Linked DNA regions of Homo sapiens: region 2 is linked to region 1. The links come from fine-mapping of genetic effects on gene expression. Tissue or cell type: whole blood. Region 1 holds a variant in brackets; the other region holds the start of a gene. All regions are shown on one strand. Distances are between the middles of the regions.

Region 1 (8,149 bases):
GAAGCACTTTGGGGCTGGGCCTTCCAACCAGGTGTTCAGGCTGTTCAGGGCCCGCATGCTGCAATGAGAATTTAGCAGTGACTCCTCATGGAGCAGGAATATGATGCGCTTAACGTATTCTTAAGGACTTCTCAGTTTTAATTATAAGTTTAGTAATATAAGCAGAATTTAACATCCAGAATTAAGGCTATTTCCATTTCCATTCTCTAATAAATAAAAACATTTGTTGAAACTTAAATTGCTCTTCTCAATGAAAACTTTAACAAGTCTTTTGTTGCTGACTAAACATATCCATCTCTGAGGCCTAAAGCTTTCTCCTTCTGTGTTGGGCAGCAACCCTGCCCTGCCCTTGTTTGAACTGAAATTGAAAGTGGCTCCTCAGACCAGGCACGGTGGCTCACACCTGTAATCCCAGTACTTTGGGAGGCCAAGGTGGGCGGATCATCTGAGTTCAGGAATTCGAGAGCAGCGTGGCCAACATGGTGAAACCCCATCTCTAATTTTTGTAAAAATACAAAAATTAGCCGGCCGTGATGGCTCATGCTTGTGATCCCAGCTCCTTGGGAAGCTGAGGCAGGAGAATCACTTGAACCCGGGAGCAGAAGGTTGCCGTGAGCCAAGATCGCACCACTGCACTCCAGCCTGGGTGACAGAGCAAGACTCCGTCTCAAAAAAAAAAAGAAAGTGGCTCCTCAGATTTAGGCCACTTCTTATATTTGGCCACTGCCTTGCAGCCTTGTAGTTCACATTGCCACCCTGGTGTTGGTGTGACATGGTGTCCCATCCCTGAAGCTGCCTCCCTTGTTACTCACCTTATTGCTGTCTGAGAAAGGAAATGGGTGATTCACAATCCTTAAATCAAGTGGCTTTCTCTTACCTAGAACTTCTGAATTGAACATACATTTAAACAATGACGTTGAAAAGATGTATAACTGGAGCAATAAAGACTGAAAAAGAAAGCTGCGGCCAGTTGTTAGTTTTTCCGAGGCTCCTTATCTGTTGAGTGGCACCCCAGGCTCCCTTGCTCTTGTCCCCCACTGCCTGTGATAGAGAAGCCTCTTGTTAAACACTGGGAGCTACTTCACCACACTCACAGGCTATTCCCAGAAAGATTTTGCACCTGGGTAAAGCATCCTTGAGAAAATAACCTGTTTTCTTTCCCAGAGTGAACCCAGCTTCATCCCTGGAACCACCACATATGCTTTTCCCCTGGTGGGTTCTTAACCTGTTAACACTGAAATCTACATTGTTAGCTGCTGATAAAGCATCAGAAACATGGTCTAATCTGGGAGTCAGTATTTGGATTTCTTTTTTCTTTCTTTCTTTTTCTTTTTTTTTTTTTTTTGGAGATGGAGTCTTGCTCTGTCACCAAGGCTGGAGTGCAGTGGCGCAATCTTGGCTTGGCTCAGTGCAACCTCCACCTCCCAGGTTCAAGCAATTCTCTTGCCTTAGCCACCCTAGTAGCTGGAATTACAGGAGTGCACCACCACGCCCGGCTAATTTTTGTATTTTAGTAGAGATGGGGTTTCACCATGTTGGCCCCATGCTCTCACACTCTTGACCTTAGATGATCCGCCCACCTTGGCCTCTCAAAGTTCTGGGATTACAGGTGTGAGCTACCACGCCTGGCCTGGATTTCTTATTCTAGTATTTATTAATAATTCAATTTGAGAAGACTACCTAGACTATTTGAGTTTTGTAATCTCTAATTCCTAGCTCTAAAGCTAATCCCTTGTGAATATCTAGACTGGAAATCCCCGTTAAGTACCTGCACATTTTCAGGTTTTGTTAACTGGTTGGAGTCAGACTGGAGAATTTCATTTCTATTCATTTTTGGTTTTCTCTTTCTTTTTCTTTCCTTCCCCACACCCCAGGGCTACCAAGAAAAGAACAAATTCATTGCTGCACAAGGTAAAGTAATGACAACTTTTTTCTGTTAGATTTAACCATGATCACATAATGGGTTTGGTTTTTTTCTCCCAAATGCTGAGTGGATTAACCAGAATGCTGTAGCTTTTCTGTACTTTTTACCACCTGAAAGAATTATAATCCATTATACAGGTTTACAGCTAACAGCCTTCATCTTGATGACTTAGTATCCAGGGATCCATTAAAAGAAGTCTTTTTGTGTATGTATATTAAAAAGACTGGAAAAGGCTGTATACACAAAACACAGTCTAATAAGGCCCTCTGTCCTTGGGGCTAGTTAACCTTAGGTTCCAGCCAGGCTGCTCAGAGTTTGAATTAGGAATCAGTTTCCAGAGAGGATCAGCCACCTCACAGGGTCCAGGCTGGTTCTCCCCCAGCTCATGGGCCTGAGCCTCACCATTATTCACAGATAGTTGGTCTAGGAACCCTCAGATCAGGGACCCAGCACCATGTCCTTTATGTGTTCTACACACATTTCCAGGCCTGCTGTTCTAACAACTGTCTTCACTCTTTGAACCCTAGCAAAAATATCTGGATGTTTGCAGCATTAAAAAGTAATTGAGGCCGGGCAGGGTGGCTCATGCCTGTAATCCTAACACTTTGGGAGGCCAAGACAGGAGGATCGTTTGAGCCCAGGAGTTCAAGATCAGCCTGGGCAACATAGTGAAACCCCGTCTCTACTAAAAATTAGCCAGGCGTGGTGGCACACACCTGTGATCCCAGCTACTTGGGAGGCTGAGGCACAAGAATCACATGAACCCGGGAGCCAGAGGTTGCAGTGAGCTGAGATTGCACTACTGTACTCCAGCCTGGGTGACAGAGTGAGACTTTGTCTCAAGAAAAAGAGTCATTAGGGACTACAAGATTTATAAAAACAAAGTTCTCCTCCCTTTTCTTTTCACTTTTTTAGTCTAATGCCCCTGGGGCAACCATTTTTATCTATTGGCTTCTTATGATAGATGACATCATCTGATCCCCTTACAGAGCACCTCCCCCTCAGTCAGACAGACGTGTACCCACATATCCTCCCCATTCTCCCAGAAGAGTCAAATCACAATTTGGGGTTAAGGTATTTATTATTATTATGAGTTTACAAATATTCACAGCCGAAACACACAGTATTATGTTATTTTTTGTATAGTTTTTTTCCCCCTTCTTTTTTAGTCATTGTGTTTTTTATATACCTACTACTGATTTTCCTCCCAAACTCTTTACCAGAAGTATATATCTTCTCTCAGTACCTTTAGATACATGAGGTTTAATTTTTTTATCTTGGGATCCTTCTAGAATCTTCTTTCTTCAGTTGCATTGTGGATTGGTTGCTCTCTATCCTCTGGCAGAGTTATCATTCTAAGACCAGTACCCTGGGAATTCCGTTAGCCTCTCTGCTGTGTTGGATCTCATTTATTTTCCTCTGTTTGCCTCTCATTTTTGTTTAGAATTTTCTAGTGACTTTCCGAAAAAGGTTATATGGGAGGTAAATTTTGAATTCTAGCCTGAACAAGTCATCCAACCTTTCTGGGGCTGATGACACCCACCTCAGAGCATAATAGGAAGGAGTAAATGCCATATGAAGCACTTAGCTCACTGTCAGGTCCATAATGTAGGTATTCTGTGAGCAGTCATGATTTCTAATTCCCAACTGTAATATCCTTGGGAGACATCATTCGTGTTCTGTTTATATTTTTGACAGCCTTCCACCCAGCCCCATCCTTGTGCAGTGCCTGGCACATACATGGTAGAAACATGGAAAATACTCAATTAGTAACGGGGTGGATGGATACATGGGTTAGATATTTAGCTGGGGACATTTGGGCACAAGCTTCCAAAAGTCAGGAATGGATGTTCCCAGCCTCCCAGCATCTTTCTTCTTGGTGTATATTCTCTTCATTTTTGCTGTTGGCTACTTTAGGACCAAAAGAAGAAACGGTGAATGATTTCTGGCGGATGATCTGGGAACAAAACACAGCCACCATCGTCATGGTTACCAACCTGAAGGAGAGAAAGGAGGTAAGTGGAAAAATTGGATGTGAACAGCAGAAGGATCACTCTGCATATAAGCTCTGAGTTTAAGCCTGGCTGTCTATCCTTTGTGGGTGCTGTACCAGTAGTTCATCCAGAAAGACACAGGCTGAAGTCTATCAGACTTTGCTATGGCCTGGAAGCCCCAGATATGAACCTCAGGTGTGTGCCTAGAGCACATTCCCTGTATTTGGTAGTCAAACAACTCACCCTGGTTCCAGAACAGCCTGAAAGAGACTGACTTGGGCCATCAGCTAAGGAAAAGCCACAGAGGGGTTTTT[T/G]TTGTTGTTGTTTTGTTTTGTTTTGTTTTGTTTTTTTATTGATCATTCTTGGGTGTTTCTCATAGAGGGGGATTTGGCAGGGTCACAGGACAATAGTGGAGGGAAGGTCAGCAGATAAACAAGTGAACAAAGGTCTCTGGTTTTCCTAGGCAGAGGACCCTGCGGCCTTCTGCAGTGTTTGTGTCCCTGGGTACTTGAGATTAGGGAGTGGTGATGACTCTTAACGAGCCTGCTGCCTTCAAGCATCTGTTTAACAAAGCACATCTTGCACCGCCCTTAATCCATTCAACCCTGAGTGGATACAGCACATGTTTCAGAGAGCACAGGGTTGGGGGTAAGGTCACAGATCTACAGGATCCCAAGGCAGAAGATTTTTTCTTAGTATAGAACAAAATGAAAAGTCTCCCATGTCTACTTCTTTCCACACAGACACGGCAACCATCCGATTTCTCAATCTTTTCCCCACCTTTCCCCCCTTTCTATTCCACAAAACCGCCATTGTCATCATGGCCCGTTCTCAATGAGCTGCTGGGCACACCTCCCAGACGGGGTGGTGGCCGGGCAGAGGGGCTCCTCACTTCCCAGTAGGGGCGGCCGGGCAGAGGCGCCCCTCACCTCCCGGACAGGGCGGCTGGCCGGGCGGGGGGCTGATCCCCCCACCTCCCTCCCGGACGGGGTGGCTGGCCGGGCAGAGGGGCTCCTCACTTCCCAGTAGGGGCGGCCGGGCAGAGGCGCCCCTCACCTCCCGGACGGGGCGGCTGGCCGGGCAGGGGGCTGATCCCCCAACCTCCCTCCCGGACAGGGCAGCTGGCCGGGCGGGGGGGCTGACCCCCCCACCTCCCGGACGGGGCGGCTGGCCGGGCAGAGGGGCTCCTCACTTCCCAGTAGGGGCGGCCGGGCAGAGGCGCCCCTCACCTCCTGGACGGGGCGGCTGGCCGGGCGGGGGGCTGATCCCCCAACCTCCCTCCCGGACGGGGCGGCCGGCCGGGCGTGGGGCTGACCCCCCCACCTCCCTCCCGGACGGGGCGGCTGGCCGGGCGGGGGGCTGACCCCCCCACCTCCCTCCCGGACGAGGTGGCTGCCGGGCAGAGACGCTCCTCACTTCCCAGACGGGGTGGCTGCTGGGCGGAGGGGCTCCTCACTTCTCAGACCGGGCGGCTGCTGGGCGGAGGGGCTCCTCACTTCTCAGACGGGGCGGTTGCCAGGCAGAGGGTCTCCTCACTTCTCAGACGGGGCGGCCAGGCAGAGATGCTCCTCACATCCCGGACGGGGCGGCAGGGCAGAGGTGCTCCCCACATCTCAGACGATGGGCGGCCGGGCAGAGACGCTCCTCACTTCCTAGATGGGATGGCGGCCGGGCAGAGACTCTCCTCACTTTCCAGACTGGGCAGCCAGGCAGAGGGGCTCCTCACATCCCAGACGATGGGCGGCCGGGCAGAGACGCTCCTCACTTCCCAGACGGGGTGGCGGCTGGGCAGAGGCTGCAATCTCGGCGCTTTGGGAGGCCAAAGCAGGCTGCTGGGAGGTGGAGGTTGTAGCGAGCCAAGATCACGCCACTGCACTCCAGCCTGGGCACCATTGAGCACTGAGTGAACGAGACTCCGTCTGCAATCCCGGCACCTCGGGAGGCCGAGGCTGGCAGATCACTTGCGGTTAGGAGCTGGAGACCAGCCCGGCCAACACAGCGAAACCCCGTCTCCACCAAAAAAATACGAAAACCAGTCAGGCGTGGCGGCGCGCGCCTGCAATCGCAGGCACTCGGCAGGCTGAGGCAGGAGAATCAGGCAGGGAGGTTGCAGTGAGCCGAGATGGCAGCAGTACCGTCCAGCTTCGGCTCGGCATCGGAGGGAGACCGTGGAAAGAGAGGGAGAGGGAGACCGTGGGGAGAGGGAGAGGGAGAGCTGTTTTGTTTTGTTTTTTGAGACGGAGTCTCGCTCTGTCGCCCAGGCTGAAGGGCAGTGGTGCCATCTCGGCTCACTGCAAGCTCCGCCTCCCGGGTTCACACCATTCTTCTGCCTCAGCCTCCCGAGTACCACCCGCCACCACGCCCAGCTAATTTTTTGTGTTTTTTTTAGTAGAGACGGGGTTTCACTGTGTTAGGCAGGATGGTCTCGATCTCCTGACCTCGTGATCCACCCACCTCGGCCTCCCAAAGTGCTGGGATTATAGGCGTGAGCCACCACGCCCGGCCCACAGAGGAGCTTTTTTCCCCTGGTTTCTCTAGTTCCTTATTTCCCTGGTTTTCTGCCCCACCTGCTGAGGCCTTTGGTATATCCTGGATCAGCAGAGGGAGCTTTATGAACTGAGACCCTGCAAGCCAAAGGGAATTTGAGGCCTTGGCCTAATCCTGGAGGCAGCCTCCTAACTGGGCCTTTTCCTTTTGTGGCTACCAAGTGCATGCCTGGCCTAACCAGCTCTATCACTGGGCCACAGCCAGAGCCAATTCTGGGTCCTGGGGTCGAGCCCCAGCGAGGAATACCTATTTGTTACCGTGTTTCTCAAGGATGGCCCTTGAGTCACCTTGATCCTAGGGTATCGGGTGTCATGATCAACAGCTCCACAGTGGCATGGGAAGACAGTGCTAGGGCTGGGCTTTAGGTTAGTTTCCTCCAACCAAACCTCTTGCTCTTGGAAGCTATCCAAAGCTCAGGCAACAGAAAAAGCTCTAGGCCTCTCATGGCAGGTTTACAGTCTGCATCAGTCTACCCTGGTGGCCCCCTCATAGCAGACTGCTGGTTCGAGGGGTTCAAACAGGCTTTCTCCTAGAGCATGACCTGAAATGTTGTGAAAGTGCAGATTTTGTAGGTAAGATGGCTTCAGATTCGCCCTGAACCAAGGGAGTGTGGGTGGGAAACATTGAGAAGTATGGGGCTAGGGCTGTGTGTAAGTTAGGAGACTGTGCTCAATAGGATGGCGGCTAAGGAACTTGAGAAAAGGGCAAATTTGAATAAGTAAGTGTGCAACTGACTGAGATAGAGAAGAGGTCAAAGGGCCTTCTGGGGGACTTTAATCTGGGCTTTGTGGGCTCTTCCTTCCAGGCCCTTTGCATCTGCCATGGGCAGGAGGTCTAAGGTCAGGGAATGTATGTCTTTTTCTTTCCAGTGCAAGTGCGCCCAGTACTGGCCAGACCAAGGCTGCTGGACCTATGGGAATATTCGGGTGTCTGTAGAGGATGTGACTGTCCTGGTGGACTACACAGTACGGAAGTTCTGCATCCAGCAGGTAGTGTCTCCTCTGTCCTTTCTCAGTTCTTATGTTGGATCTGCTGACCAGTAAGAGGGAACAGGCTGGATCATCCCGCTGTGGTCAGGAGTTGCTGAGTATGCAGTATGTGAATTCTGAAACCAGATATCCGGGCTCAGGGGAACTTGTCTGTCAAAGCTAAAGGAGCAGTATTTTCATGACTGGTGAAAAATTACCTGTTGAGATGAAGTCTGATCATTTAGATATGACCAAGCACTGTGGAAAGGGAGCATGGGGAGGCAGTGCAGTCTCCTAGGTGCTTGACTCACCTTTCTCCTCCTTTCCTACTCCAAAGACTCCTGACATCAAGGATGTGATGGGCCTGCCCCTGGCCCTCCAGGCAACCCTGGAGACCTGAGCAAAGGTCACCTTCAGCCAAGGGGCAGTGTGGTACTGCGAAAAGAGGACTTAGCTGGGAGCACTGCATTTTAGTTCTGACCCTGCCACTGACTAGTTGTGAGACCTTGTGTCTGTGGTTAACTAACTCCCCTGGGTACACTTACTTTTCCATTGTCACTGACAACCACAGCTGTCACCTTCCCTCCCCTGGTACTGCCCACCCTTGGGTATCAGGGCCAACACACAGGATCTCCTCACTTCACAGGTGGGCGACATGACCAACAGAAAGCCACAGCGCCTCATCACTCAGTTCCACTTTACCAGCTGGCCAGACT
Region 2 (6,440 bases), 180 kb before region 1:
GTACAGGGAAATTGTGCTAGACACTGGGGCTGAAAGGGGTGAGTCGTCAACAAGTGCAGCAGGAAACTTGCCCTTTAAGGACACGATGCAGGGGAGAAGCAGCCATGGAGACAATCAGCCATGGTGCCCTCTTTGTGTGCATGCAGGGACTAGGGTGTTGACATGGAAACAGAGGTTCTGCAGCAGAGTGTTACAGTTGAGATGTGATGGGGAGCAGTGCCTCAAAACAAGGGGGAGTGGGGCCCTCAGAAGCCTCCACCAAAGGCCCAGAGATGGGGCCCGAGGAGAGCTACACCAAGCTGCACCAGTCACAGTGGGACTCTGAGGCTGAACTAAGAAGCCTATGGAACACTGTCCATTGAGCCCAAGTCCATAAGGCTGGCCTTCCCGATGCAACATCCCTGTTCCACACCCTGCCAGTTGACTGTACCCCCACCCCCCAGCTGTGGGCTTCTTTGCTTCTGCCACACTGCCTGGATGGCCCTTCCTCCCTGTCTTTCCACTCCTCACACCCATGCCCCATTTCTTTCCTGTTAATCTGTTGGGTAGGACCCTTGCAACATGCTGCCTTATGTGGTCAATACTTGTACAAGCTCCTTCAAGCACACAGAAATGACTACACAGCCAGACTGTAGAAAACTGGAACTTGGACAAGAATATTGCTCCGATGATCTAACCCTCCTCAGGGGTTGAGGAAGGTGCATGCAGAAGCCACAGGAGTCCTTCAAGGGACCTCTACTTCCCTTGAGTGGCTGTGTCCCATTCTGTTTCTGAGCCCTGTCCTCTGAGGGCCCCAGTGCATCACTACCCCCCCACTTATGGTAGGGCTCACCAGGGGGATAGCCACGCTTGGGCAGCTCCACGCCCCAGGCGTCAGCCACATGGGTCAGAAGCAGGTGTGAGAGGTGGCGGTGTGCATGCTGGTCCCAGTGGACACCATCCCGATGACGGTGCTGTACTGCATGCCGGAAGTGAAAGTGGAGGTCTAGGACATCAAAGCAGTGGTCCCCGGCCAGCGTAGCACTGTAGAAGTTCCCTTCAACCACATCCCGCCGCAGGGAGCCTGCCAGGGGCTGGAGCTAAGTGAGAAAGTGCAGCCTCTAAGAGCCACAGAACGCAGCAGGGTCTGAAAGCAGGGTGTCCTATCTACCAGTCTGCTATCCCATCTCTTGTCCTGATGGGCCTCAGTCACTTGCCTCTGGCAGGAGGAAACCCCCAGTGATACGTTCCCCGAGGGGCATCGCCATGTTCCACACCAGCAGGCAGGAGTCTGGCAATACTTGGTCCATGCGCACAAACACCCGCTCCAGGTTCTCCCGGTAGCTCTCCATTGAGCAGCGACCATATCTGTTGGATAACACACAGGGTGGGCAAGAGCACAAGGGTGGACTGCCTCAGCCGTACTTCCAGCCCCAACCAGTATTCCCCTTTCCCTCGCCCCAACCTGGAGAGATCCCAGAGGCAGGAGTTGATGATCACCAGGTCCGGGGCAGGTCCATATGTCAGCTCTTCCAGAACATCCTCAAGGTACTCGGAGTAAACACGAGTGAGGAAGTAGAAGCGCACAAGGTGGTGGCCAGAGCCCGAGCAGAACTGGCGGACCTCACGATACTGTGTCCCGTTGTGCAGCTCGCCCAGCTGGCCCCCAGCCACCAGCTGGTCCTGTTCAAAGCTCAGCTCCCCCTACCCACCCCCCCCACCCTACTGGTCAGACCCATGCCAGGGAGGAGAACCCTGCCAGGCCAGGGTCTGTGCCCACCCACCACTGACATGGCCACCAAGCTTCCCTCACCTTGGCTTTCAGCTGGGCAGCTGTGAGCAGTGAGTCTTTCTGGAGCAAGAGCACCAGGTCCTTGTACACAGCCCTCTGAACTGGGAGGAGACAGAGATCCCAAGGCTGAGGCAGACCTCAGCCTGCCCCAGCTCCTTCCAAGTCCAGGACCCCATTTTCCCAGGGCTGAGGTGCCCGACACCAGCTCTGTGGTTGACTTAGACGCAGGAGAAAAGATGAGGTTAAAAAGTCCTGGCATTGCCTCTGTTCTGTGTGCCTCCTGGCCAGCAGTATACAGTGACCCAAGATCACCTGGCAGAAATTAAGTCGGCCAAGTCACCCAGGAGACACACTACACAATGCAACGCTTTCGTGATGGAAATTATGGGGAGCTGTCAGGGCGAGAAATGCTGAGCAAGGATGGGCTAAAAAGTGCACAGGTTATTACACCTGTCAGGACTCCTGTGGAAGATGTGTGGGACATAAAAAGAGAAAACCTACTGGACGGAACAGACCAGAAGACAGACAAGAGATGTGAGATGGAAACAAATGGTCCAGACACACTGAACGGGCTGCAAGGTGTGGGACTGGAAGCGTCACCCTAGAAGAGGCACTCACTGGAGTCCCCCAAGATGACCACGAACTTGTTGTGTAGCAGCTGCTGGACTTCCGAGGCCTGGAAGTGGACCATGTCGCTTCGCAGCGGGCGGCGCGGCTCCTCGCTCGACAGACAGAAGACCATGCCGCCACCAGCAACGACAGGCTGCAGGGAGAGGCCACTAAGCAGCGCGATGGTGGGGACTCTGGGCAGGTCAGCCTCAGGGCTAGCCCCTCCGGGGCTGCTCAATGCTAAAGGGAGGAGGTGACGGCAGCAGAGCCATGGTGGCGCCAGCCTTGGTCACACTTGGTACCAGAGGCAGGGGGTCGTCCAGCCAGCAGGCCTCCAGGGCACTGGGGAGCTTCCCGCGCGGCGCCGCCCTGCGCCTCGCCACGTGCCCGCCGCCGTCCCGCGCATGCGCGCACCCGCTCGCGCCAATTACCAAGTCCCGGGGCTCCGCGGTGTTCACCCGCGACCCGGGTATGCCTGCGCACCGCGCGCCTGGCCCGCAGCGGGCTCCTAGCCAAGCCTCATGTTCCCGCGCCCCAGTCGGCCAGTCGGTTCTGCAAAGCTCCCGCCCCGCAGAGACCGTGGGTCCAGGTTAGCCGTCGGTGCACAGCCCAGCGCCCAGCGCTCTCCATGCGAGCGTCGCTGTGGCCCCGACGGCGCCTCAGGCCTCGGCGCCTCGGGCTGCGACGCTCACAGCTTCCACTTCCGTTCACCCATGTCCCGCCCTGAGCGACCCCCAGTGCCCGAAGGGAAAGCAAGGCGATGGAGGTGGCCGCCACAGGGCGCAGGAGCCAGGGCTGGGCCCACTTGGCGGGCGCGAAGCCCAGGTACGGGCTGGGGTCTCGGGGCGGCAGCCAAGTGAGGCTGCCCACAGTGGTGATGGCCGCGGCGGCGGCCTCGCCACGTGACCCGGACGGGCGGAAGCGGAAGTGCCGGCCTGGAGCCCGCTCTAGGTGGGTGTCCCCTCGGTGCTTCCCAGCTGCCGTCTGCACCAGCCATGGACTGCTACACGGCGAACTGGAACCCACTCGGGGACTCTGCCTTTTACCGGTGAGCTGCCCCGCCCTCCCGCCCACGGCCTGGCTTACCCTGCTCGCCCGCCGGCTGGAGTCTCCCGGCGGCGTTCGCCCCTGTCACTACTGGCGCTGGGGTCCGCCCCGCGCCGGCTCTCCCCGAGCGTCTGCCACTTAGCGCACAGCCGCCTTTGGGCAGGGAGCCGGGCCTTCCCCTGCTCCAGAAAAGGAAACTGAGGCAAGCACAGTGGTCACCCCGAAGCCCAGGTCTGTTAGCCTCCGGAAAGATGCTCAGATCTCGCTGAGGGAGGCAGCTCGCGGGTGACAGCGAGTGCCCAGTCTCCTGCCGGAAAGTGCTGCTGAAGTCAGACCACAGGGGCGCTCCGAGGGGGGCGGGATCGCACGGCGGGCGGGGTAACAGTGCTGACCAAGGCTGGGAAAAGGGGGCGAGTCGTCCGTGAATCCCGGAACAGCGGAAGTGGGAACCCCTGGGTTAGGGCAGCCCGCCCATGGGAGTTGTAGAGTCCTAAACCACGGATTTTTCTAAAGTGTAAACCCGTTACATCGTTACCCAGATTAGGATTTTCCCATAGCTTCCCTAATAGGAAAAACTACGAACTTCTCGTGGAACGTCTATCTGTAAGGCAGCCCGTTTGTCTCTCCAACCTCATCTACCGCTCTCCTACCCAAATCTTGCGTTCCAGCTGCGCAGAATTACAAGGCCCTAACCAGTCTGCAGTTTCTGTGGATACTGCCATTTCTCTCTTTATCTCACTGAAGAATTTTGCGCATCCTTCAGGACTTAGTAGTTCAAGGGTTCTTTCTGGAACTGTGCCTGATTCTCCCCCAATAGAATCCTGTGGGCCTCACTGGGCCCAGTGCTAGGGTCTTTTAGGTATGGTCTATTTGTATATTTAGGCGACATTTGTATAGGTTTCTTCTGCTAAACCAGGCTCCTTCAGGGCTGAAAGCATTTTTTTTTTTTTTGACAGAGTCTTCCTCTGTTGCCCAGGCTGGAGTGCAGGGGCACTCGGCTCACTGCAACCTCCGCCTCCCGGGTTCAAGGGATTCTCCTGCCTCAGCCTCCCGAGTGGCTGAGACTGCAGGCCCCTGTCACCACGCCCGGCTAATTTTTGTATTTTTTGCTAGAGGTGAGGTTTCACCATGGTGGCCAGGCTGGTCTTGAACTTCTGACCTTAAGCAATCTATCCACCTTGGCCTCCCAAAGTACTGGGATTACAGGCGTGAACCACTGAGCCCGGCCAAAAGCATGTTTCTTGCTTCTCTTTATCACCAGTGCATATTTAGAACAGTGCTTGCTATGTAATAATTGCCCATTAAAGTTTTTTAAAAATATTTTACTGGGCCGAGCTTTGTGGCATGTTCCTATAGTCCCAGGTACTGGAGAGGCTGAGTTAGGAGGATCACTGGAGCCCAGAAGTTTGAGGGTGTAGGGACCGATGTTAGAACCTGTGAATAACCACTGCACTCCAGCCTGGGCAACATAGCATACTCCCTCTGAAAAATTAAAAATATTATTTTAGGCCAGGCGCAGTGGCTCATGCCTGTAATCCCAGCACTTTGGGAGGCCAAGGTGGGTGAATCACCTGAGGCCAGGAGTTTGAGACCAGCCTAACCAACATGGTCAAACCCTGTCTCTACAAAAATTAGCCAGGCATAATGGCAGGTGCTTGTAATCCCAGCTACTTGGGAGGCTGAGGCAGGAGAATCGCTTGAACCTGGGAGGCGGAGGTTGCAGTGAGCCAAGATAGCGTCATTGCATTCTAGTCCAGGCAACAGAGTGAGACTCCGTCTATATATAGATATATCTATCTATATCTATCTATAGATAGATAGATATAGATAGATATATAGATGTATCTATATATATATAGATACATCTAGATGTATCTATATATAGATAGACATATGGATGTATCTATCTATAGATACATATAGATGTATCTATCTATAGATAGACATATAGATGTATCTATCTATAGATAGACATATAGATGTATCTATCTATAGATAGACATATAGATGTATCTATCGATAGATAGATGTATCTATCGATAGATAGATAGATGTATCTATCGATAGATAGATAGATATATGTTATGGATTGCAAGTAAAGATCACAAAGACATTGCATGGGGGTCTTACTTAAATAGAAGACATTTGTTTGTGCTAATGAAACTGTATACCATTCTCACTGACATATTAAAACTTTTAAATGTAATTTTTGGTACCTAATGTGATATACTTCCTAGATGGACAAGTGCCCTGTGGCAGTTTTTAGAGACCTGTTGCATTTGTTGTTTATTTATAATTCTCTCTTAGAAATATGCCTGTGCAATTGGCCGAGCGTGGTGGCTCACGCCTGTAATCCCAGCACTTTGGGAGGCTGAGGCAGGCAGATCACGAGGTCAAGAGTTCGAGATCAGCCTGGCCAACATGATGAAACCCCGTCTCTACTAGAAATACAAAAATTTGCCGGGCGTGGTGGCACACACCTATAATCCCAGCTACTCGGGAAGCTGAGGCAGGAGAATTGCTTGAACCTGGGAGGCGGAGGTTGCGGTGAGCCAAGATCGCACCACTGTACTCCAGCCTGGGCAACAGAGCAAGACTCCATCTTGGGGAAAAAAAAAAAAGAAAAGAAATATGCCTGTGCAGTATGAAAAAATTGCAAAAACTTCATTAAAAATCCATAAATGCAGTAGGAAATGATTTCAACTTGTTTCTGTGGAGAAGGAATTTCAGCTGACCAAGGTAGCCATGTCATTTAGTATTTACACACCAGCTAGTTGATACAACATTCACTTTTAAAATATCAACTTTACTTGTATTATTTTGAAGATACCTGTTGCCTACCCAGGCTTATTAAATCAAAGAGTACTGCAGACATTGACCTCATTACCACAGAGCTCTTATTTGTCAGATGTAGTCTTTGCTTTGTTGACATGTTAATAAGGTTTTAAAAGAATGTATGTGTTGGGTGCATGCCACAGACACAATCTGAATGATTAATCTACTCTTACCTGTG

Evidence for each region. PIP is the estimated chance that this variant, and not a neighbour inherited with it, causes the effect.
Region 2: VPS16 starts here. The variant in region 1 is fine-mapped to the expression of VPS16 in whole blood (TOPMed, PIP 0.98).

The regions. Positions count from the first base shown.
Region 1 is chr20:3,013,975-3,022,123 of GRCh38, forward strand. PTPRA (protein tyrosine phosphatase receptor type A) reads left to right here. Exons shown (of 24, transcript NM_001385305.1): 12 at 1,875-1,911; 13 at 3,842-3,939; 14 at 7,335-7,454; 15 at 8,080-8,149. Among named protein-coding and RNA genes, the nearest start is that of GNRH2, 26 kb to the right of the region's middle. The variant T/G (reference allele first, on the strand shown) is at 4,233.
Region 2 is chr20:2,837,400-2,843,839 of GRCh38, forward strand. VPS16 (VPS16 core subunit of CORVET and HOPS complexes) reads left to right here and starts at 3,346. Exons shown (of 24, transcript NM_022575.4): 1 at 3,346-3,428. The coding sequence starts at 3,376. PCED1A (PC-esterase domain containing 1A) reads right to left here and starts at 3,256. Exons shown (of 8, transcript NM_022760.6): 1 at 2,812-3,256; 2 at 2,390-2,534; 3 at 1,793-1,872; 4 at 1,445-1,683; 5 at 1,197-1,347; 6 at 833-1,079. The coding sequence starts at 2,513. RefSeq lists enhancers at 782-1,081, 2,558-3,089, 3,623-4,154.